Linked DNA regions of Homo sapiens. The protein of the gene in region 2 purifies or fractionates together with the protein of the main gene of each other region. This does not show direct contact. Each region holds a gene or a part of one and is shown on either strand. Other genes may lie near its edges. The genes, in order: MOB4, FGFR1OP2, PPP2CA, STRN4, TOX4, PPP2CB and SLMAP.

Region 1 (3,500 bases), on a different chromosome or scaffold from region 2:
GGTTCATCTGTGTTGTAGCATGTATCAGAACTTCATTCCCTTTCATGGTTTTATAATATTTCATTGTATGTCCATGCTACATTTTGTTTCTCCATTCTCACGGTGGTTTTTTTTTTTCCCTTATCAAGCATGGTTGTGGAGGAGACAATGTTAATCAGCATAACAATAACGCACAACCCTCGCACCAACTGTCTGTGGTTTTGAGATGTGCCTTAATAACTAATGTTGAGCATCTTTTCATGTGCTTACTGGCCATTTCTGAATCTTTTTTTGAGACATGGTCTCTCTCTGTCACATAGGCTGGAGTGTAGTGGTGTGATCTTTGCTTACTTCAACCTTGAGTCCTTGGGCTCAGGTGATTCTCCCACCTCAGCCTCCCTAGTAGCTGGGACTACATGTGCACACCCATCACACTCAGCTAATTTTTTGTATTTTTAGTAGAGATGGGGTTTCACCATGTTGGCTAGGCTGGTCTCGAACTCCTGACCTCAGGTGACCCACCTGCCTCGGCCTCCCAAAGTGCTGGGATTACAGGCGTTACTGTCTTCGAAATCCAGTATTTATTTTGTGTTTACAGCATATTTCAATTTTGACTACCCACATTTCAAGTGCTACACAGCTACATGGGGCTCATGGGTTACCACATCACTGTATCTTTAGACCTTTAACTGGTTTCTGAATTTTTAATTTGGATGACATTTTGCATTGTTTTTAGCTGCCTTCCCTTCACCTTCCCCCAGTTAATTCTCAGGTAACTATTCCTACTCTGTAACAGTTATAACAGCAAAAAATGGCAAAATATAGCAGGTTACAAAATACTATGTAATGGTGTTTACAAATTTTTATGTATTATATTTTTCCAAATATATAATCATAATGCTACTGCAAGTGATCACAATCAGCATGTGACTGTGAGGGCTTGTAGACAGTAAGTTATAATGTTTGTCGCCTAGAAGCACTATTTGTATAATTTACTCTATATGCTGAATGCCTCTCTTTAATTCTCAAGGATACTGAATAAATGATTATTGGTGCTAAGTATTCTGCTGCTCCCACTTCAGAATCTCCCTAGTGATTTTAATCCATGAGAGCAATTTTCTTAGCTTAGTTTGTCAGTTCCTATAGTTTCCTGACTAAGCAGTTATTCAAAAACAGTTCAGAAAGTGTCCTTTCAAATTGTTCTTTTGTTTGTATTTTTACAGTAACTCCACTCAATATAACTACCACTTGGAAATCCTACTATCACCCTCCCTTGACACATGGCCAGTTCAACAGATCTGGACTTCAGCAAGCAATGCTGCAATTCTAAGACTCAATTTACAGGTCTTAATGCTAATGACTATCCTGTCATTTAATATTAATCAAGAAAGAAGTGGATATGAGAATGACAGTATATTTAAGAGTCATAACACATCACAAACTGGATATCACTTCCACTCTAAAGAAAGAATAATACATCATTACTATTTGCCAAAACAAAACTAGCCTTGATTCAGCCTTCTTGATTCAGTTTCCTAATTGCAATAATCACATCATTCACTACGTTAAGTAGCCAACTTCAGTGAATTATCAATGAAACCACTATGTGGATTTTCCCAGATGTAGACAGATACAATCTTTTTATTTTTTTTATTTTTTATTTTTTTTGAGACGGAGTCTCGCTCTGTCGCCCAGGCTGGAGTGCAGTGGCGGGATCTCGGCTCACTGCAAGCTCCGCCTCCTGGGTTCACGCCATTCTCCTGCCTCAGCCTCCCAAGTAGCTGGGACTACAGGCGCCCGCCACTACGCCCGGCTAATTTTTTGTATTTTTAATAGAGACGGGGTTTCACCGTTTTAGCCGGGATGGTCTCGATCTCCTGACCTCGTGATCCGCCCGCCTCGGCCTCCCAAAGTGCTGGGATTACAGGCGTGAGCCACCGCGCCCGGCCGACAGATACAATCTTAATACTGCTTCAATTAATTAACATAAAAATGTGACATCCTGAATGAAACCAGTCTTCCAAATAAGTACTATTCTCTTAGGTATCAAATACTCCTTATTTTGGAGCATTTGTCCTTTTTGAAACAAAAAACATCAGATATTGATTTTGCAACTAGGGCCTCACTTGTCTTCAAGCCTTAGAAGTCTATCAATATAATGACCACTTCAAGGTCTATGATTCTACAGAATTGGCCTAACCCAATATCCCCAGTGAGTCAGTGTCAAGTAAAAAGTAATTATAACAGATTAAATGGGAATACAGATTAAGGGAAAAGCAATGCATAAACAACCCAGATGTAAAGACCATTTTGGAGACAACTAAGGAAAAGTATACTGGGTATCAGATGATATGAAGAAATTTTTTAAATAAGAAAAAGTACAGTAGGCCAGGCACAGTGGTTCACACCTGTAATCCCAGCACTTTGGGAGACTGAGGTGGGCAGATTACTTGAGGTCAGGAGTTTGAGACCAGGCTTGCCAATATAGCAAAACCCCATCTCTACTAAAAATATAAAAATTAGCCCGGCATGATAGCGCATGCCTGTAATCTCAGCCACTTGGGAGGTTGATGCATGAGAATCTCCTGAATCCGGAGACAGAGGTTGCAGCGAACCGAGATCATACCACTGCACTCCAGCCTGGACAACGGAGTAAGAATCCATCTCAAAAAAAAAAAAGAGCAAAACAAAAAACTGCTACTGCCTATAGTCTTACCTTGACAAAAACTAAATAAGGAGAAAAACAACATGAATATTTAAAAGCTCAAAAGTAACATTTCTACTTAAACTAGGCATCAGAGTAATCAATAGTTCTTCCTATCAAAAGAAATAATCTGAACAAAAACCTAAACAGGCGTATCTCAATCATTACACAGTAGATATCAGCACAATGTGACAGATGTTAATCCGTAATAGCCAGTGGATCATGAAGTGAGTTCTAGCCCATGTAATTGCCCAATTATGAAAAATGATGCTTATCATAAGAAATCCTAAAATAGCACTGCAGTAACAACTTCACAACAAGCAACTCAAAATGAAATAGCAAAATGAACAGTGAACTAAAAACCCTAAAAACTTGTCTAACATTGTCTTGAGAGAGATTTAGGCTATAATAATTTTATTAGTTACTCTATTTCATAAATCCTCACCTCTTTTGGAGTTTTATGAGCTGCACAAAGAAAAATCCATTGTTCAGTTGCTGTCATTTGAGTGCAAGTATCTGGATGGCATTCACTCTGTTAAAAATAATTATATTTCTTAATATGTAAAATAATAATGAAAAAGCTTATCATTTAGGTTACTATATTTCCATAATAAATTCTAGAAGAAAGTTAGAAATGTGGATACGTTTTTGTAAGCACATTAAGTTATAAAAACAGAGAAAAAAAAATCAGAACTTTCAATTATAACTTTGACTTAAAGAAAATATTACCTGAAGTTTGACAGCAAGTCCATTTAGCTCAAGGCAGAACTGCCTGAAAATGCAAATACATAAATAAAAAGTCATATCTATTCTTCAC
Region 2 (3,500 bases):
CTGAGAGGTATTTTATCATATTAAGCCTAAGACTTAAATATAAAAGTGAATAACTCCCCAAATAAACAGTCTCTTCAGTAGTTGTGTATATATATATTTGTAAAAAGGATTTAACAGTACTCCAAGAAACCCACGGAACTAATAAGCTGGAAGAAATGACAAGGTAGTATCTTTGGCAAAGCACATTTAATAACCTCTTAACCAACAAAAATGTAGGTCCTTTTCATGGGGAAACCTATACACTGCTAGTACTCAGCAAGAAGGTACTCTAAAAGGCTAATCTGTGCTGTCCAAAACAATGTTAAACTTAATTAAAATCAATACATTTTTAAAAATTAACAATTCAGTCCCTCAAACGCATTAGTGACACTGCAAGTGCTCAACAGCCACATGTGGCTACTGGCTTCCACACTGGACAGCACAGATAAAAAACATTCCAATCATTTCAGAAAGTTCTACTGGATAGTTTTGAATTAGATTATGGTAGGAAGAATGATATTAAGACAAGTATCTGTCATATTCTGCAAGTTAACCATTAAAATTCCTCCCATTGTCAAGGAAGCATAATATGTAAAAGCAGGTTAAGTACAGATCATTGCAGCTGCAAACTGAGTAAGGGTAATGAGTAAAAACTTTGAATACCAACAGCATCCTCAATTTATGATTTGGTCAGTCCTATGGCACTGACCTAAGTTAAAAAACTACACAGAAAGCAAGCATTTCTTTTTTTTTAGACAGAGTCTCGCTCTTGTTGGCCAGGCTGGAGTGCAATGGCACGACCTCGGCTCACTGCAACCTCCCACTCCCAGGTTCAAACAATTCTCTTGCTTTAGCCTCCCGAGCAGCTGGGATTACAGGCACCCGCTATCACGCCTGGCTAACTTTTTGTATTTTTAGTAGAGATGGGGTTTCACCATGTTGGCCAGGCTGGTCTCCAATTCCTGACGTCAGGTGATCCACCCACCTCAGCCTCCCAATTACAGGCATGAGCCACCATGCCTAGCTGAAGCAAGCATTTCTTTGCCTTTAAAATAGAAGGAAAAAAACTACTGATTTTTTCAGTACCAAGTCTAACAAAGCTCATCATGAGAAAAAACCCAATACTTCAAATAGGGCAGCACTTTTATAAAAGGTCATGGTAATGGTTCACTTATTTAATTATAAAATCTTCAGAGAAGTATCACAGATTTTTTAACAAGCACAAGAGGCAAGATCTGTGCTTTCAAAACTGTCTGGAAGACAAGAAGTGTCACCAACATAACCCTTGAACTGTCTTGAAATGTCTTTCATTTCTAACTCCCTGTCTAGGTTTATTCCTCCTTTATTCAATAAAGACCTGCCACAAGTGAGTTAAAAAAAAATTAAGACACAATGGAGAGAGCACTACTATACTTAATCCTAACATCTAAACAAAGGCATTTTAATTTCATTTGCAAAATCAAAGGACTACAAACTATCCACAATCTGAATTAAAACATTTAATACTTTGACCTTATGAAATCAGTTTAAAATTAATGCCAAGAAAATATCTTTGATGTCCAGAAAGGAAATGACTGTTTCACAGCAACAACTAACAAGAGCAAATAAATAAAGCGTTGGACTGAATAACCTATAAAACCTGCAAATATCTAACAGGCTGTACATGATACAATACACAGAAAATTAATGAGAGATTTAAAGTTTCTACACTGAACAGCATGGCTATTAAAGACACAACATTCTTTTAATAAATTTCATTTATTTGCTGATCTAATCTGGGAGGGAAATTCAATGTAAAAGCACTTTTAAAATGGACCCCCCTTCCATCCACACCCCAAAAGTTGACTGTTTATTTAGTGTACATTCTGATTTGCTTCCAAGTGCCTTCTCTCCAGTCCATGTTGAGGTGCTTCAAGGATGTGTCGAGATGCATCAAGGAAGAATCCTTCGGACTTGTTACGATGTACCATGTCAATCTGTAGTATAGAGTCATTATAATGTTAATACGGATATCATCCGTAATTTAAAAACTGAATGAGTGTTAGTTCATGCGTGTTAGCCAACTGTTTGAAATGTTTGCTTTTTTAAGATTTCCAAAAAGGCATCTGTTCAAAAATAACATGAAAATTAGTATTTGGGTAAAAATGAGCTCTCAAACTTTCTACTGATTTTTTAAGTATGTGCTCAAAAACTTCTAGTTAAGGGCAAAGTTCTGTATTATAACAGTCTCAAAAGGATCTCTTACTCCAATCCAAAATGCTGTTATGTGTAACTCTGTTTCTTAGCTCTAAATGTGTTGTAAAATTACTTTTGTGTTTAGGCATATCAGAGCACTAGTACCTAAACACACCCTACAATACCATACTTTTTGTGCTTTTATTATACAAGTTTCTCTGCCCACCCACCCACTTCTGCTTGTTTACCTACCTGCCCATAATTAATTCAAGGCTGGACTGAGACAGACTTTCTTCCCTTCCTTGTTACCTTTCCAGATTTTCCTTATGACAGTTAATATTGTTCCCTCTAGCGTTCCAGTAACAATTCATCTACTTTGGGATTCATCACGCCCTACCTTATAGTAGATTGTTATGTTTGTGTCTGTATCTCCCACTATACTGCAAGCTTGTACATTCATCTTATTATTTCCCATAACTAACCCAGTGCCAGTATTAATGTTTGTTTAATTAAGTCGAAGTGTCTCCTTTTTGGGAAAAATCAAAATCACAAACATTAATATGTATTAGTGAAAATTAATAACAAATAACTGAATAGTCATTTTATGGGAGGCAAGGATCATCTGAACTTAGATGAAGAATTCAATCTACATAATAAAAAAGGATGGCTTACAGCTATCTTAGGAAATGTTTAACCTTACTAATTAATAAACCAGCTCTGGTGAATAGTAAAATCTAATATATTTTAGGAAACATTTGCTTCTGTCATAGTTGCTACCAGATGGGACCTGCAAGCTATAGTTATCCTATTCTAAGCACTTTTTTTGTAATGGTATTCTTCGCTTTAGATCTTTAACATTTTATTTTTAGGTTATAAAACATACAAACCTTTTAGAAATTCTCAAGATTATATTTATCTTACAAATAATATTAAGTCAACTCCTTTTAGTGCCTTTAAAAAGTCTTAGTTACTATAGTTATTATTATACCTTTAAATTTAAATGATTTTAGAATGGTCTCATTAACAATAGTTAAATTTTGTATTCAAAAGATCACCACTTAAACATCCCTGGATTGCCATTTGATTAGGAGATGAATAGCATAATTAGAAAACATTAAACACAAATTTTTAATTTAATTTATTATTTTACTGGTTGACACAAGAGGTACCTATCATTAGGTTTTCTAATATAATAAAGGCATATAAAGAGCTATTTGATAGGTATTTAATTCTAATAGAATTAATTACTAATAAGTTAAAAACACGTACAAGCACCAAAATGGAAGAAGTATTTTAAAGAATCTAAAATGTGTTTCAATAATAGATAAATATGAAAATATGTCCTT
Region 3 (3,500 bases), on a different chromosome or scaffold from region 2:
ACACTTTTTTGAGACGAAGTCTCGCTCTGTTGCCCAGGCTGGAACGCAGTGGCGCGATCTTGGCTCACTGCAACCTCTGCCTCCCGGATTCATGCCATTCTCCTGCCTCAGCCTCCTGAGTAGCTGGGATTACAGGCAGGCGCCACCATGCTGGGCTAATTTTTGTATTTTTAGTAGAGAAGGGGTTTCACCATGTTGGTCAGGCTTGTCTCGAACTCCTGATCTCAGGTGATCCACCCGAGCCTTCCAAAGTACTGGGATTACAGGCATGAGCCACCGCGCCTGGCCCCCTTAAACTCTTAAACCTCACATTTAAACTATGTATTCAGGCTGGGCACTGTATCTTATACTTGTAACCCCAACACTCTAGGAGGCCAAGGTGAAAGGATCACTTCAGCCTAGGAGTTCGAGACAAGACTGGGCAATATAGTGACACCCTCTCTCTCAAAATAAATAAACCAAAACCCTACATATTCAGTAATGCAAGAAAATGTTCAGGTAGAATTACTTACAAAGAGTATTTTAGAGTATCGTCAAGTTCCATGATTGCAGCTTGGTTACCACAACGATAACAATAGTTTGGAGCACTGAAAATCGTTACTACATTCCGGTCATGGCACCAGTTATATCCCTGCAAGGAAAAGGAGACAAAAATCTTACTTTACTCCCTCAATTCAACTAAATGTTACTTCACTCAAGAGAGAAAAAAATCTCTACTCATTCCCACCCCTGCCAAAGGGGCTTAAGAAATGTTAATGCTTTTTTTCTGGATGACTTAATAATCTCCTGTACTTTATACAACCTGTAAGGTACACATGTATTTATTTTCCCCCTAATTACAAAACTTGTTTTTTTTTTAGTACTTTAAAAAAAAAAAGGCTTTAACAAACAGCAGCAACCACCAAAGAATGAAATACTTCTCATGTATCTGCCTTGCTGTAAATGACAATGTCTCATTAGCCTCTTCTCTTGCAGTGGCCTTAAAACATGATTTAAGAATAAGTATTTAAGTGGCCATTCCCTAGAGAAGTAGATACTTAATCCTGGAGACCAGAACCTTACCAATTTTGTCAGTCACAGGTAAAGGCCTGTTAAGTTGGTCACTGCCCAGGAACAAATGCAATATGCCTCTAGGATCTCCAGCCTCATTTCCTCAAAGTCCATCCACCTGAATGCATGAGCTACTTTTGTTACTTTTTGTTTAGTATTGTTCACAATTTCTTTACCTTTAGCAAAGTCAGATTTTATTGATAACCACAGAGTTGTACTAGTATTAATCTAATTAGGACCTTATTTTAAAAATATTCTAATCAGTGTGCCATGTCAAGAACCTTTGCCTCTTTCCCTTCTTTCAAATCACCTGTAATCCTAGCATCCAAAGGACCACTTAAAACATTTTCGTGTATTTCTTTCCAGTCTCTCCTACATACATACATTAAATATACGAAATAACATTGGGATCATAAAATATCATACATGCACACCAACTCCCTATATCTTACTTTCCCACTCTTAAATCTCAAGTACTTCCTAGTCATTCAGATTTCTCTGAAAACATGTTAATGGATTCATTGTAATCAAAAGCTTGAGCTTTTAATTCTAGTAGTGTGCATCTACTGAAAAGGCTCAGGCTATAATGATAAACTCATCAGAAGGAATAGATGGAATTTCTCACAAATGTCATTAATTTAAAACTCCCTAATATCTTCTTTCCTTAAGTTTACTAAAAAAACAAGTCATATTTCAGAGAACACAGCATACCTCCATCACTAGCTGGTGAGCTCTAGACACCAACGTGAGGCCATTGGCATGATTAAATGTCTCAGAAATATCTTGCCCAAAGGTGTAACCAGCTCCTCGAGGAGATATACCCCAACCACCACGGTCATCTGGATCTGACCACAGCAAGTCACACATTGGACCCTAAAAAATAACTTCAAGTTATAAAATGCCTTTTACAAACATGGTTAACACATTATTTGAGTAATTCATCAGAAGCAGCACCCTAAGCCACCCTTTTTGAGTGATGTTTGTGGACAATGCTAATAGACTGTGCAGTTGAAGTCAAACATCTGCATCAAATAAGATGTATTTTCCAGCAGACTTTATGAGACACAGCTGACATCCATGGGACCCAGCAGCAACATGCCCTAATTAATCTGCCTATATTATGCAAATTTCAGAGTCTAAGACAGACAACCCAGGTCCTAATAAGCCCAGCTTCACAGCTGTTGTGATCTTGGCAGGTTTCTTAATGTCAGCTTCTTTTGAACAACAGGGCAGACAAGAGTGCTCACACCTCAAGTTGTTTTTGAGAATTATATGAGAGAATACATCTAATGAACTTACAATTAAACTTCTCCACTCCCTAATAAGTTTTCTGAAAGAATTTTATCAAATAAAAGTCATACCTCATGGGGAACTTCTTGTAGGCGATCAAGTGCTCTGATATGATCCAGTGTATCTATAGATGGCGAGAGACCACCATGTAGACAGAAGATCTGAAAAGAGTGGTTTAAAAGGTTAACCTCACCTAAAAAATTTGTAAACATTCTTGGCTGGGCACAGTGGCTCATGCCTGTAACCCCAGCACTTTGGGAAGCTGAGGCAGGAGGGCTGCTTGAGGCCAGGAGTTTGAGACCAACCTGAGCAACACAGCAAGACCCTGTGTCTCTACAAAAATTTTAAAAAATGAGCTGGGCACCCCCATCACTTGGCCCCTCTGGTGTTTCTGTGCTCTGCCTGAATGAGACTTGACTTTGCAGGGTTCATCTTTGCTCCAGCCCACTCTGAACTATTGAGTACACTCCTGTTCTTCCTAATAGACCATCGCTGTCACAACCAGACTCCACTTCAAACAGCTCCTTTGAGAAAACTTCTTGGATATCACTCCTGCCCTTTGCCAGAGACTAGTATCTTCATACTCATAAAATTTTATTGTAAGTTCTTTTGTGTGCACATCTACCTAGGCCAATAATTAGCTCCTTACATCTCCCAGACTTGTCCAAAAACAGTCTGAGAGGGTAAATGGGCTACATCACCCACCCCTGTGATCCCACCATACAGTTCAGTGCCTGATATAAAGAATAATGCACTTAAAAAAGTTGGACACATTTGTCAAATTAAATTTTTTTTAAGTTTGAATGAATGCTATCAATATCTATTAAAAAATATCCCCAAAGGGGTGTTAAGAGTGGAAAGAGTCATAAGCACCTGAACACTAAAGAAAGCAGATTCTCTGAAATAATCAGCAATGAGTTTTAGATCCACATACCTGCCCATCCACCAAGGCAGTGAGAGGAAGATAGTCAAAAAGATCTGTAAAATATTTCCAAACATTTGCATTTCCATATTTTCTTAAACATTCATCATAGAAACCATAAACTTGTGTGATCTGTCTGCTCTCATGATTCCCTCGAAGAATGGTGATGCGTTCACGGTAACGAACCTAAAACAATAAAATGCAAAACATAAACAACTAGCTCTTTCAAAAACCAATG
Region 4 (3,500 bases), on a different chromosome or scaffold from region 2:
AAGGAACTGGGCCCATTTCGAAGTTGCGAACAATGGACAGGGAGAATAAAAATGATGAAAGAAGTAGAAGCTGGCATTTGTTAGCCTTTATTCTGTGCCAGGCCTTGACTGAGCAGAACCTAGCACATGAGGGGAGGGCACTCTTGTGACTCTCATTTTCTAGAGGGGCAAATGGAGGCTCAGAGAAGGCTGATGACCTGCGTAAGATCATGTAGCGAGTAAGTGTCTAAGTTGGGCCTGGGCTCTGGCTGTTCTGGGCTGGAACGGTGGGGTGCTTGGGGAGAAGCCAGAGATGAGCCTTGGGCCAGGGCTTTGGCAGAAGAGCTTCTGGACCATGGTCAGGGGCCAGGATCCTGCCTGGAAGGCAGTGGGCCCAGTGTCTCCAAATGACCTGTTGACAGACTGGAGCAGACGGGGCAGCTCAAGCCAGCAGACGGTGTGAAGTGCTTGGCAGGAACCCGGGGTCGTGTCTGTGGCACATTTCTCTCACACCCTGGGCGGAATGCAGTGGGACGGCTGGTCCCCACAGCGGGCTTGGCTTGTAAAGCTTTTCTATTGGAGCAGGAGCCGAGCCGAGCCACCCACTCTTGTCCCTAAGCTCCAGAAGTAGCTTCCCACGCCTCCCAGAGACAGATGCTCTGGTAAGAATAGTGGGACGCCACCTCCACCAGCAGCCTTAGGGACAGCACCTGCCAGAGGGCGTCAGGGGTAGTCCAGGGCGGTGAATGCCCACCCTCCTCTCCACTGCCATCCCTGACCCGACTTCCCCCCAAAGGCAGCCACCAGGTGAGGCCCAGGCTGGCCCCATTGTTATCTCAGGGGTTAAGGGCTCCCCTTCGGCCCTCGTTGTGGGTGACGTGGCAGGGGGCCCTGGAAACAGATCCATCCTGTCCTCTCAGTGCTCCCTGAACCCTGGCTTGGGATCTTTGTGCCTGAGGAAGTGGCTGCTGCCCATTACTGTGGGGTGACTGTGGGCTGGCACTATACCTGGGTGAGTGATAGACACACCGGCATTGAGCCTGAGCCCCATTATCTCCCTTTGCCTCCTGTCTGCCCTCCCAGGCTCAGGTGGCCTTCCTTCAGGGAGAGAGGAAAGGGCAGGAGAATCTAAAGACGGACCTGGTGCGGCGGATCAAGATGCTAGAGTATGCGCTGAAGCAGGAAAGGTGAGCCTTCATCCTGCCCTGGGCCTGCCTTCTGGGTCCGTCTCAAGCACAGTGTCAGGAGGCCACCAGCCACGCCTCCTTCCAGCTAAGGGAGATTTGGGGTCGACATTCTTTTCCATCATTCCAGTACCATAAGATTCTAGGGGAGAAACAGGACAGAGTAGGTGGGATTTGGGTTAGACACCAGGAACGATATTCACGATGCTAGTGGCCCACTGTGCGCCAAATATCGTATAGTCCTTACCTCCGTTATCCCTTATACCTTCCAATAGCCTAACGGGTATTGTTAGCCCTGTTTCAGATAAGGAACTGGGGTTTCAAGGGCTGATGGTTTCCTCAAGGACCCCTGAGAGCAACCTAGGTTGCCTGACTCCAGGGAGTGGTTTCTTCCACCAGGCCAGGGGTGTGGGGGGATGCTTCAGCCTCAGTAGTAGACGAGCTGGGGGAGGCCCTGTGATTTGGGGTTTGGGATTCTGGATTCCTTAGGTAACTACTGACCCTGTCTACTCTCCCGCATCTCTTATTCATTAATCATTTGCTCTTTTAGGGCCAAATATCATAAACTGAAGTTTGGGACAGACCTGAACCAGGGGGAGAAGAAAGCAGATGTGTCAGAACAAGGTACCCACCCTCTGATGCTCGCACTGTCGGCACCCTCCCGCAGAAGCTGAGTGTTCTGGAGAAGCAGGAAGATGGGGTGCCTCTTTCTCACTTTGCTCCTTAGAAGGCAGAATCGGCCCCGGGGCTGGGGAGGGGCGGAATCTCACTCTCAGAGCCCTCCCTATGGGCTGCCAGGTCCCGTGCTGGACCCTGGGGGCCAGTCCCGCTTGGGTCCCCCTGTGCAACAGAGGCAGACACACGAGCAGCTCACGGGATCCCTTTGCGAGGAGTGGGCGCCAGGGCTATTTATAGAGTGCTGGGGACGGTGCGGGAAAGCCGGGGAAGACGTCACTGAGGAGGTGGCGTTTGAACAGGGTTGCCGTTCAATCGTTCATCCAAAAAAGACTTTATTTGTAGGGTACAGGCTTTGTATCACAGATCAGGAATACAGCAGAGAGCACGGGAGACATGGTCTCTACCCTCTGGTCCCTTAGAGTCTAAGCTCCTTGAAAGATGACTCCGTTCCCCAGCAGGAGAGTCAGGGGAGAGAGCACAGATACAGAGACGCACGCTGAAAGGGTTAGGGGACAGGGAGTCGGTCAGTGTGCCTGGGCAAACAGTGTAGGGCAGAGGATGTGGGAGGGCGGGCTGGGTGAGGGGGAAGCTTGGCCGAGGCAAGCTGAGAAGACCTTGTGTGCTCAGCTGATAGTGATGGTCATTACCTGCTGCCAGCTCCTCTCACTAGAACGGAAGTTCCACAAGGGCAGGTCTTTGTTTACCCATGTAGCCCAGGCCCCTGGCCAGGCACAGCGTAGATGCCCAGGAAAGACTTGAATAAAATACTAAGCAAATTATCTCATTGCATCCTCTCAGCACTCCCAAGAGGGAGATGCTGTTATCATTAAGCTCATTTCTCAGAGGACGAAACTGACACGGCTTACACTAACTCAGGGTCACACAGCTGGGATGGGGCAGAGCTGGGCTTGAACCCAGTCGGCCCTTCTCTCAGAACCAGGCCAGCTTTCTGGTTTTGAGATAACACCCTTATCTTGTCGGGGGCCAGTTTGGGGAACCACCAGTCAGGAGACCTAGAGATGAGGAACGCTTCAAGGAGGAGGAATCCCCGAGTAAGGGAAGAGAGCAGGGTTCCAACACTCAGGAAGTGATGCCACAGGACCTGCGACAGTGACCGATTTGGGTTGGAGGGGTGAGGAAGATGGAGGAGGTGATGGGTAGGTGGCAGTGGCCTGACTTAAGACAGCCTCCGTTCTCTCACCCGCCAGTCTCCAATGGCCCCGTGGAATCGGTCACCCTGGAGAACAGCCCGTTGGTGTGGAAGGAGGGGCGGCAGCTTCTCCGACAGTGAGTGTGCTCGGGGAGGGGGGCTGGGGACACGTGACACGTTTGGCTTGAGAGATAAGTCCAAAGACTCCACAGTCCTTTTCCGTCCCCACTGGGGATGCTGAACTATCAGGATCTTAGCCAGCCATGGCTGGAATGGCTTTCACCCTGTGGGCGGAGCCTGGCCTGGGGAGAGGGAGGGAAACCCGCTGCAGGAGGCAGACGTGGGGACACCCCTGTTGGAATGTGTCCCTGAATGCCTCTGTGGCTTTTTTTTTTTTTTTTTTTTTTGTCTCAGTGGCCATAGGAGCCCTGTGTGGCTTTTTTTTTTTTTTTTTTAGATACCTTGTGAAGATTTATGAAGCATGGCTTTTTATTTCCCAAGGGTAATAT
Region 5 (3,500 bases), on a different chromosome or scaffold from region 2:
TCTTTTGTCTTAAATTATGCCTATGGTTCTAATGAAAAATTCTTTCAGTACCATTACTTAGGACATAGCCTTTATAACCTGTTTACTATGATTCTTGAAATCTCTCTCTAAAGATTCTAATAGAGCAGTTATTTCACAATTATTACATCTAAACTGTTAGGTCACAGAAATTCGCTGTCAGCCAGCCAATTATACTTTGTTGTTTTAGGTTCCTTTCAAACAGATGCTAAAATGTACTGTCATGGGAACTTTACCCCCTCTAAAATATTTGCAGAGTTTCCTACTTCTTCTCCACTTTAGAAATTATAATGTTAACAACAAATAAAGATTCCCATTAGTATAGGATTTTCAGAAAACCTCAACAATGCCAAAAATGCTAGTCTTGCTCTGACCAAGCTTCTCTCTAAGAGAGGAAAAGGATTACTCCAGTTGGCTAAAGACCCAATCTCTTCCTCTGAGTCCAACTAGGTCAATAATAACACATTCTTTCTTTTCTGAATGAGGCCACCACTCATGCAGCTAACAGACAATGTCTGATTAAGATGTGAACTGCTATGGTTCTGTTTTGACACTAAAATCTAAATGGTGGCATTTACAGCAATAGACATTTATAAATAATAGCAAGAGACTGCTGTCAGAGAGACCTGGGTACAAGACCTTGAACAAGTTTTCTTCATCTGTAAAATGGGAATTATAATGGTAATCCCCTTATATGGTTATTATGAGGATAAGTGAGATTTCATGCATAAAATCTTAGCACATTGCCTGATACATATAATGGCTTAATCACCATCATTAACCATTGTTATGAATGATAATATCCTAATAATGATTACCCCCACCCCAACCAATTATAACAGATAATTGGAATTTTAGAAACTTTAAATTCTATCAATCTAACACATAGCATAGTAAATATAAACTGATTCAGATCAAATTCAATAGGTACCAACATTTTTTTTTTTCATAATTGAACAATGCATTCTTTAAATAGAGTTCCTAAAGGTTCCTTTTCTTTTTTTTTGAGATGGGGTCTTGCCCTGTCACCCAAGCTGATCTGGAACTCCTGGGCTCAAGCAAGCCTCCAGCCCCAGCCTCCCGAGTAGCTGGGACTACAGGTATGTGCCACCACACCCAGCTAATTTTTAAAATTTTTTGTGGAGACGAGCTCTCCCTGTGTTGCCCAGGCTAGTCTCGAACTCCTGGACTCAAGTAATCCTACTGCCTCGGCCTCCAAAGTGTTGGGCTTACAGACCTCAAGGTTCCTCTAGATCCTGAAATGTTCTTCTATTATGACCATTTCTGTCTTTTTTTTTTTTTCTTTTTTTTGAGACAGAGTCTCGCTCCGTGGCCCAGGCTGGAGTGCAGTGGCGCGATCTTGGCTCACTACAACCTCCACCTCCCGGGTTCAAGCAGTTCTCCTGCCTCAGCCTCCAGAGTAGCTAGGACTACAGGTGTGTGCCACCACGCCCAGCTAATTTTTGTGTTTTTTAATAGAGACGGGGTTTCACCATGTTGGCCTCGATCTCTTGACCTCGTGATCCACCCGCCTCAGCCTCCCAAAGTGCTGGGATTACAGGCATGGGCCACCGCACCTGGCAGTTTTTTTTTTTTTTGAGATAGAGTCTCCTTTGTCACCCATGATAAAATGCAGTGGCGTGATATTGCTCACTGCAACCTCCGCCTCCTGGGTTCAAGTGATTCTCCCACCTCAGGTTCCCAAGTAACTACAGGTGCACACCACCATGCCAGGCTAATTTTTATTATTATTTTATTTTTGAGACAGAGTTTCACTCTTGTTGCCCAGGCTGGAGTGCAATGGCGTGATCTCAGCTCACCGCAACCTCCGCCTCCCAGGTTCAAGTGATTCTCCTGCCTCAGCCTCCCTAGTAGCTGGGATTACAGACATGTGCCACCATGCCCGGCTAATTTTGTATTTTTAGTAGAGACGGGGTTTCTCCATGTTGGTCAGGCTGGTCTTGAACTCCCGACCTCAGGTGATCCGCCCTCCTTGGCCTCCCAAAGTGCTGAGATCACAGGCGTGAGCCACCACGCCTGGCCATGACGCCAGGCTAATTTTTGCATTTTTTGTAGAGATTGGGTCTGGCCATATTGCCCAGACTGGTCTTGAACCCCTGGGCTCAAGCCATCACCCTGCCTTGACCTCCCAAACTGTTGGGATTACAGGCATGAGCCACAGCGCCCAGCCTCTAATTCTGGTTTAATGAAGACATTAGGCTGGGAGCAGTGGCTCACGCCTGTAATCCCAGCACTTCGGGAGGCCCAGGTGGGCGGATCACACGAGGCCAGGAGTTCGAGACCAGCCTGGCCAACACAGTGAAACCCGTCTCTACCAAAAGAACAAAAAATTAGTCAGGCATGGTGGCACACACCTATAATCCTAGCTACTCGAGAGGCTGAGGCACGAGGATCACTTGAACTCAGGAGTCAGAGGTCACAGTGAGTCAAGACTGCACCACTGCAATCCTGCCTGGGCGACAGACCAAGACCATGTCTAAAAAAAAAGAAAAAGAAAGAAAATAAAGGCCGGGTGCCGTGGCTCATGCCTATAATCTCAGCACTTTGGGAGGCCGAGGTGGGTGGACCACCTGAGGTCAAGAGTTCGAGACCAGCCTGGCCAACATGGCGAAAATCCATCTCTACTAAAAATACAAAAATTAGCCAGGTGTGGTGGCAGGTGCCTGTAATGCCATCTACATCAGGAGGCTGAGGCAGGAGAATCACTTGAATCCAGGAGGCAGAGGCTGCAGTGAGCCGAGATTGTGCCACTGCACTCCAGCCCGGGTGACAGAGCAAGACTCTGTCTCAAAAAAAAAAAAAAAAAAAAAAAAAAAAAAAAAAAAAGACATTGCTAGAAAGAAAATTTCCAGCTAGCAGAAACTAGGGAGAAAAAAGTGTGCCTGTGAAATGCCCAATCTCTGAATCACATTTGTAAAAGTTTCCTAAAAGACAAAAAGATATATGTACAGTTTCCCTTCTCCTTACTATTTTACTTGGTATGGTAAAAAATCTGGTCGTTGTCTGAGATATAAGTAGCACACGGAGCATAAGAACACACAGTTCTCAGCTGGTAGTGGTGGCTCACACCTGTAATCCCAGTACTTTGGGAAGCCAAGGTGGGTGGATCACTTGAAAAGTCGGGAGTTCGGGACCAGCCTGGCCAACATGGAAAACCCCATCTCTACTAAAAATACAAAAATTAGCTGGGTGTGGTGGTGTGCGTCTGTAATCCCAGCTACCCAGGTGGCTGAGGCACGAGAATCGCTTGAACCCAGGAGTTGAAGGCTGCAGTGAGCCAAGATCACATCACTGCACTCCAGCCTGGATGACAGAGCAAGACTCTGTCTCACACGCGCACACACACACACACAAATAACAAAAAATACCACGCAGTTCTTGATGGGAAAAACTGAAACTTTCCCCAAGAACTGAACTTTTCTCAGTAGTACACAAATCATGTATTTATGTATGTTGTTTTG
Region 6 (3,500 bases), on a different chromosome or scaffold from region 2:
AAGCTGCACCTGTTCTTGTGATACACGAGCTCCTGCATAGTTATAATTATGCCTTATTTCATTCCTAGTGTTTTATGTGCCTTCCATCTTTTCTTCTAGATCAGTTTTGTTCACTATTATTTCTTTTCTAGTAACTTTTCAGAAAGAAAGGAAGGAAGGAGGAAGGGAAAAATATATAAAAGCTCTACTAACGCACCCATTTTAAAAACTAGATACTTCATTAAAACTGATAGGCTGTCTTTTAAAAATCATTCTGTCCAGCAATTTTATTATTAATGAAGACTATGTTGCTTCAAAACAATTAAAAACAACCTTAATTAAAATTTAACATCTTTTAAATTCACATTTTCTTTTAACAAGTCCAGGCAAAGTATCGTCCTTTCAAATTAATCACGGCAGTGTCCAAAATCATGGCTGAGAAAAAAGACTGTCAGGATTACACAGGGAAAGTTATAACCAAATTATATTCCCACGAGCAGTCTAAGAGAGAATTTATTACATTCTTGACAACTCTGGGCTTTCATAATTTAAGAATTATGGAGTTTTATTATATGTTTTATATTTATTTATTTTATTTTTTGAGATGGAGTCTCACTTTGTCACCCAAGCTGGAGTGCCGTGATACGATCTTGGCTCACTGCAACCTCTGTCTCTCTCAGGTTCAAGTGATTCTCCTGCCTCAGCCTCTCAAGTAGCTGGGACTGGGACTACAGGCATGCAATGCCATCCCCGGCTAATTTTTGTATTTTTAGTAGAGATGGGGTTTCACCATGTTGGCCAGGCTGGTCTCGAACTCCCTACCTCAGGTGATCCACCCACCTTGGCCTCCTAAAGTGCTGGGATTACAGGTAGGAGCCAACTTGCCCGGCTTTTGTTTTATATTTAAATTTAAATCAGTTCATGCTTACAGTGATTATCTCTAGAAATTGAAATAGGAAATTTGCATAATTTCTTCTTATACTTTTGAATGTTTCATGACATGTCTGCACTACTTGTTACAGCAAATGCAGAAATAGCATTTGCTTCTATTTTCTTTTTTTGTTCTTTGAGATGGGGTTTTGCTGTTGCCCAGGCTGAAGCCCAGGCTGGATCACGGCTCACTGCAGCCTTAACTTCCTGGGCTGAAGAGATCCTCTCACCTCTAGCTTCCTGAGTAGCTAGACCACAAGCACGCGCCACTATGCCTAGCTAATTTTTAAATTTTTTTTTTTGTAGAGACAGGGTCTTACTACATTGCCCAGGCTGGTCTTGAACCCCTGAACTCAAGCGGTCCTCTTGCCTTGGCCTCCCAAAGTACTAGCCACTGTGCCCAGCCAAGCATTCACTTCTCAGGGAAGGTGTAATACACAATATAACATTTGCAGTTACCATGAAAATAGAAATGAAAAGTTATTCATGGTAACCAGCAGACACTGCATGTATATGCAGAGATAGTTTTAAATAACATCTTGCTTTGCTAGTACTATACATCAGTGTCTTAAACATTTATTTATAATGTTTATCGATATCTTAAAAAGCACAGCATATTCTTTGGTTAAAAGATTTACATACATATCTGAGAACAACAGGAAAATTTGCTGGTCCAAATGTATGTGAAACTTATCCACTTCCCTGCTTTGAAATTTTAAGTATAAGGGAAGGAGGAGGAAAAGGCCGAGGAGATGCAGAAACACAGGTCATATGAATCTAGACCCCAGCTTACCAATAGTCAATCTCTGCTTCCATTTACCTCCTCCCAAGATGTAAGCACACATATACATACCTGTCCATCTACTAAAGCTGTAAGTGGAAGATAATCAAAGAGATCTGTAAAATATTTCCAAACGTTGGCATTCCCATACTTTCGCAGACATTCATCATAAAAGCCATATACTTGGGTAATTTGTCGGCTTTCGTGATTTCCTCTCAATATTGTAATGCGTTCTGGATAACGCACCTGGAAGAAAAGGAGTAAAACCCATAGTAAAATCACATTTTTACTAGTGTCATGTGAAGTACACCAGTCTCTGACCCATTTTTAAACACGGCGCTTTTGGCCACCAGTATATTAAATGTTAATTTCAGTTTCAAAATAAAAAACTTGCTTATTCATAACCAGGTCTTACTGGTTAACATTTGACGTGTTTATTATAATCATCCTTTTTCATCAGGTTTCGACAACCCTCATCAGAACCTTTAACTAATACTTATATTACTATAATAAACTTGTATCTGATACTTTGCTTCTATTATCTTCATCATCAAATTATTACTACTTTCCTAAATCTTTCTAGAACACTATGACTTCTTACTGCTGAATGAGTAGTGAAAATCACAGGTTTGAAGCTGAGACAAACTCTACAGATTAACTTCTTCCCTTTTCAATTTTTATTTCCCACAGGAAGATTGGATTTGCCAATAATAACACAAAAACAGGCCCTTGACAAAACTGGGCAAGATTTCAAATGTATTAATAGTTTCCTTTCTATTAAAAAACATAAGCGACTATTTAGTTAGGAATGCATCTGATAAGAAATACGAAAAAGCACTGGATTCTGCAAATTAAGCTAAAAGCTGCAAGTATGTACTTCAATTCATACATATTTTACTAAGCATCCGTTATGTGTCTAACGTAAGTTTGGTGCTATAAAGCCAGATGCCAGATCTACACAAGTACAGTCATGTGCTGGGCAGCATTTTTGTTAACAGATTACATGTACGATGTTGGCTGGAGCAAGAGACTATACCATTACAGCCTTTGTGTGCAGTAGGCTATACCACCTAGGTTTGTGTAAGTTCCAAAGATGACAAAATCACCTAATGGCACATTTCTCAGAATGTATGCCTGCAGTTAAGTGACCCATGACCATGTAATATATGGCTTCTGCTGTTGAGGGACTAACCTCACTAAGGACATATGTAAAATAATAAGTAATAGAAGGCAATAAGCCACTTTTGCAGCATAAATAAGGGCTGGGAGAATAAGTTTCCTCATAGTAATTTAGAGCAGAAGGAATAAGGCTAAAATGGTTGAAGGTTACATGGAGGAAGTGAGACCTGAGCTGAGTCTTGGCAGAAAGGTAAGAAATCAGGGACAGGATAACCTCGTGGGGGAAATCGACTATGGAAATAAACAGAGTCCAGAGCACTGAATAAGAAGAAACTTTGATTTGAGCCAGAGTTTATGCTACCAACCGCTGGCAGGCAAAAATTCAGACTAGACTATAGAAGGCCAGGCAAGGAGTTTGAATTTGATTCTATAGGCAACAGGCAATCAACAGGAAGTAACAATATAAAAGGGTTAAATAAGAGATTTCATCGGCCAGCGTATGCCAGGTGGATTTGGGGGGGATCAGATCTTGGAGGCAGAAATATTAGTTACTAAGCTATTGTAACAATCGAATTGTGAAGTGATAAACTGTGTGAAAATAGAAAGAGACAGGAACAACAGACTTTTCAAAGCAAGGATTTAAAAAGACTTGTCTACTGACTCAATATAACGGATAAGTGATAAAGTCAAA
Region 7 (3,500 bases), on a different chromosome or scaffold from region 2:
GAAACCCCATCTCTACTAAAAATACAAAATTAGCTGGGTGTGGTGGCGCATGCCTGTAATCCCAGCTACTCAGGAGGCTGAGGCAGGAGAATTGCTTGAACCTGGGAGGCGGAGGTTGCAGTAAGGTGAGACCGCGCCATTGTACTCCAGCCTGGGCAACAAGAGCGAAACTCTGTCTCAAAAACAAATAAATAAATAAAGCTCCACCAAGAGCCGTGTTGAAATGTGAGGTTCTAGAGAATCAAAGCCATGAAAAATGGGGACTCTCTGCCTTCTTACTTTCCATTTCATTTTTTTTTTTTTTTCTGAGATGGAGTCTTGCTCTGTCACCCAGGCTGGAGTGCAGTGGTGCAATCCCAGCTCACTGAAACCTCCACCTCCCAGGTTCAAGCAATTCTCCTGCCTCAGCCTCCCGAGAAGCTGGGATTACAGGCATGCACCACCATGCCCAGCTAATTTTTGTATTTTTAGTGGAGACAGGGGTTCACCATGTTGGCCACACTGCTCTCGAATTCCTGACCTCAGGAGATCCACCCTTCTCGGCCTCCCAAATGCTGGGATTGCAGGCATGAGCCACTGCGCCTGGCCTCCATTCCTTTTGAATCACTAAAAACAAACACACAATAACAATCTCAAAGAGCCTTGGGGTCTTCCATACCTTGAAGAACCTGTATTTGTTTAGTGGATTCCTCAACTTGATTTCGATAGGCTTTTCTTTCTTCTTCCAAAAGAGCTAAAAGTAAAAACACAGTATCTATTAATAGTTTTGTGAATTAATGAAAGTACTCAGAGTTGAGCAGCTGAAAATTTCTTTTAAAATTCTCTCCTAAAAGATTATTGAAAGAAACAAAAGTTAGGCAGTAAGTATTATCAGTATTAGCAGTTAGTTTAAAGATTTTAGGAGCACAGAACTGTAGTAAGTAATAAATCTATTCAACTGAGTAGTGGAGTTTTCTGGACCTGGTATCACCAAGACAATATGTGCTTTTCTTAACATGAGAAACAGTCTTGATAATTGTTAATCAGCATTTTGAACTTAATTTTTTAAAAAGACTTAAAATTCTTATATTTACTGTCAAGCACATAGTAAACACTAAACTAAATAATTGCTATTTACCAAATATTTTTTCATTGTAATTTAATATATTAGCCTGGATCCTCCAAAAGGTTCAAGTTAAGTGAATACCAATTCTAATTTCTTTGAGAATTAGGAAAGGAAAGAAGTAGTAACAAGAAGTTCCTAGTTCCCTCCTGGGATGTAAATCTTCCTACTAGGCAGGAAGGCCATCTTGGAGAACATGAGGGCTCCAGAAGTCATTCCCTTTCTCATTTTAAGACTCTTTGAGATACTAATTGTCTGCAACCAGGTAGTTACTATGAATGATACAGAAATGTAAGCTCTAGGGAACTGCACAGACTCCACTGGCTTATGACCTATAGATAAGTGAGCTACTAGAAAAGAATGTGGCCAGGACATTAGCTAACATTAGGCATAATAAAAATTTAGAAATTTGAGTTTTCCTTCTGTTGTACTTAATATGCAATTAACTATTAAGATCTTTCAGTTAGTAAAGATCTTACTTGATTTTCACATCAACAGTGTGAAGGTAGAGCAACTGTAACTCTCCTCATTTTACTGACCTGAAACACAAGTTTAGAGAGGTCAAGTAAATATACCAAGATCACATATCTCATAAAGTTGTGAATCTGGAACATGCCTCCGGACTCCAAGTTTGGGGCCACCCAATTATATTGTGCTGCCTCCACACATCCCTAAAGAACCAAAGTAATCTTGATCTCACCTTGAAGTTCAAAGCATTTTTGTTTACTTGTTCTAGCTAGCTCCTGGGCTTCGATCAATTCCTTTCGAAGATGCTGTATTTCTTGCTTTGCCTCAATTTCTGACTGTGCACCCTGCAAGTCATCTGACAAAAACATGTTTATTTTAAAAGCAAGAGTTAGTATCACACTATAATCTACAATAAAAGACTGGTAATCTCTCTCATGTTTGCACATGCATAAACAACATAGAACAACTGAGTTAAATAAAACTTAGAAGCAAATTATAGTAAGCATTTTAGTAGTTGGGAGAAAATACAAATACAGTTATATATATTAGTAATCATGGTGATGACATTATAAAAATATATTAACATAAATTATATATTCACAATTCTAGCATCAAAATAAACAGACAGTGACAGATTATAACTCATTGCTTATTAAGACTTGAAATTCAGTGAGATGAGCAAAATGCTATACTTCTTCATCAATTTTGAAATTTCTTGATAACCAGTCAGAAAAATTTCACTTGGAACTTAACTGGATATGGAAAACAAAAAGAAACTTTTCTTCAAGTAACAGCTAAATTTTAGCACAATTACCCTAGTTGTGGAACACAAAATAAAAACTAGGCTGAAAGCTCTACTGAGCCTACTTTGTCATCATCATTTCCCCAACACGCACATATAACAAATATCTGAGCTGGGCGTGGTGGCTCATGCCTGTAATCCCAGCACTTTGGGAGGCTGAGGCAGGCGGATCACGAGGTCAGGAGATCGAGACCATCCTGGCTAATACGGTGAAACCCCGTCTCTACTAAAAACACAAAAAATTAGCCAGGCGTGGTGGCAGGTGCCAGTAGTCCCAGCTACTTGGGAGGCTGAGGCAGGAGAACTGCTTGAACACAAGAGGCAGACGTTGCAGTGAGCCGAGATCGCGCCACTGCGCTCCAGCCTGGGCAACAGAGTGAGACTCTGTATCAAAAAGAAAAAAAAAAACCGCAACAACAACAAAAATCTGCTGAATATATTAAATGATGTAACCTAAGTGGTTTTACCGAAATAAATTAAATCCAGCATTCTATTTCAAATATGCCCCTTCCCCTAAACTCCTTCCTCTCCAATCATTCTGCTTTTTAATTTTTTAAAACCTTCTGCTACTGAACACTGCCTGAAATAAATATATCATCAGGTAAGCCATATTGTTCTAATGAATTCTATTTGAGTATCACCTTGGTTTATAAGTACCTCAGCATAATAACTTCAATTCATCAAAAAAGAGCTAAGAATAACTTTCACAATACAATTACAATAGGTTTTGGAAATTATATATATATATATATATATATATATTTTTTTTTCATATTCATAGATTATATCCTATTTTTCTCTCTAGAAAAATTGTATTCTGGCCTAGGCGCGGTGGTTCATGCCTGTAATCCTAGCACTCTGGGAGGCTGAGGCAGGCAGATCACTTGAGGTCAGGAGTTTGAGACCAGCCTGGGCAACATGTGGAAACCCCGTCTCTACTAAAAATACTAAAAATTAGCTGGGCGTGGTGGTGCGCGCCTGTAATCCCAGCTACTCAGGAGGCTGAGGCACGAGAATTGCTTGAACCTGGGAGGCAGAGGTGGCAATGAGCCAAGATCGCGCCACTGCACTCCAGCCTGGGCGACAGAGAGTGACTGTGTCTCTAAAAAAAAAAAAAAAAAAAAAAGA

What was found.
Region 1: the proteins of FGFR1OP2 (region 2) and MOB4 purify together in Homo sapiens (affinity purification with mass spectrometry; 3 studies listed by BioGRID and IntAct, with this or other methods). This does not show direct contact.
Region 3: the proteins of FGFR1OP2 (region 2) and PPP2CA purify together in Homo sapiens (affinity purification with mass spectrometry; 4 studies listed by BioGRID and IntAct, with this or other methods). This does not show direct contact.
Region 4: the proteins of FGFR1OP2 (region 2) and STRN4 purify together in Homo sapiens (affinity purification with mass spectrometry; 2 studies listed by BioGRID and IntAct, with this or other methods). This does not show direct contact.
Region 5: the proteins of FGFR1OP2 (region 2) and TOX4 fractionate together in Homo sapiens (co-fractionation; one large-scale study listed by BioGRID). This does not show direct contact.
Region 6: the proteins of FGFR1OP2 (region 2) and PPP2CB purify together in Homo sapiens (affinity purification with mass spectrometry; 4 studies listed by BioGRID and IntAct, with this or other methods). This does not show direct contact.
Region 7: the proteins of FGFR1OP2 (region 2) and SLMAP purify together in Homo sapiens (affinity purification with mass spectrometry; 3 studies listed by BioGRID and IntAct, with this or other methods). This does not show direct contact.

Annotation. Positions count from the first base shown.
Region 1 is NC_000002.12:197,540,066-197,543,565, reverse strand, and holds part of MOB4 (MOB-like protein phocein), read right to left. Parts: intron 3,456-3,500; coding exon 3,413-3,455; intron 3,216-3,412; coding exon 3,129-3,215; intron 1-3,128. Other genes in the region: HSPE1-MOB4 protein, read right to left, coding at 3,129-3,215, 3,413-3,455.
Region 2 is NC_000012.12:26,958,970-26,962,469, reverse strand, and holds part of FGFR1OP2 (FGFR1 oncogene partner 2), read right to left. Parts: intron 1,956-3,500; coding exon 1,842-1,955; coding exon of another isoform or gene 1,833-1,841; exon of another isoform or gene 1,719-1,832; intron 1-1,718. UniProt on the Homo sapiens protein: May be involved in wound healing pathway.
Region 3 is NC_000005.10:134,198,574-134,202,073, forward strand, and holds part of PPP2CA (serine/threonine-protein phosphatase 2A catalytic subunit alpha isoform), read right to left. Parts: intron 3,449-3,500; coding exon 3,275-3,448; intron 2,502-3,274; coding exon 2,412-2,501; intron 1,935-2,411; exon of another isoform or gene 1,924-1,934; coding exon 1,762-1,923; intron 632-1,761; coding exon 513-631; intron 1-512. UniProt on the Homo sapiens protein: Catalytic subunit of protein phosphatase 2A (PP2A), a serine/threonine phosphatase involved in the regulation of a wide variety of enzymes, signal transduction pathways, and cellular events.
Region 4 is NC_000019.10:46,736,451-46,739,950, reverse strand, and holds part of STRN4 (striatin-4), read left to right. Parts: intron 1-564; exon of another isoform or gene 565-641; intron 642-1,062; coding exon 1,063-1,166; intron 1,167-1,713; coding exon 1,714-1,787; intron 1,788-3,049; coding exon 3,050-3,128; intron 3,129-3,448; coding exon of another isoform or gene 3,449-3,493; intron 3,494-3,500. UniProt on the Homo sapiens protein: Calmodulin-binding scaffolding protein which is the center of the striatin-interacting phosphatase and kinase (STRIPAK) complexes.
Region 5 is NC_000014.9:21,483,695-21,487,194, reverse strand, and holds part of TOX4 (TOX high mobility group box family member 4), read right to left. Parts: intron 1-3,500. UniProt on the Homo sapiens protein: Transcription factor that modulates cell fate reprogramming from the somatic state to the pluripotent and neuronal fate. In liver, controls the expression of hormone-regulated gluconeogenic genes such as G6PC1 and PCK1.
Region 6 is NC_000008.11:30,795,819-30,799,318, forward strand, and holds part of PPP2CB (serine/threonine-protein phosphatase 2A catalytic subunit beta isoform), read right to left. Parts: intron 1,937-3,500; coding exon 1,763-1,936; intron 1-1,762.
Region 7 is NC_000003.12:57,906,309-57,909,808, reverse strand, and holds part of SLMAP (sarcolemmal membrane-associated protein), read right to left. Parts: intron 1,926-3,500; coding exon 1,803-1,925; intron 755-1,802; coding exon of another isoform or gene 734-754; coding exon 659-733; intron 1-658. UniProt on the Homo sapiens protein: Associates with the striatin-interacting phosphatase and kinase (STRIPAK) core complex, forming the extended (SIKE1:SLMAP)STRIPAK complex.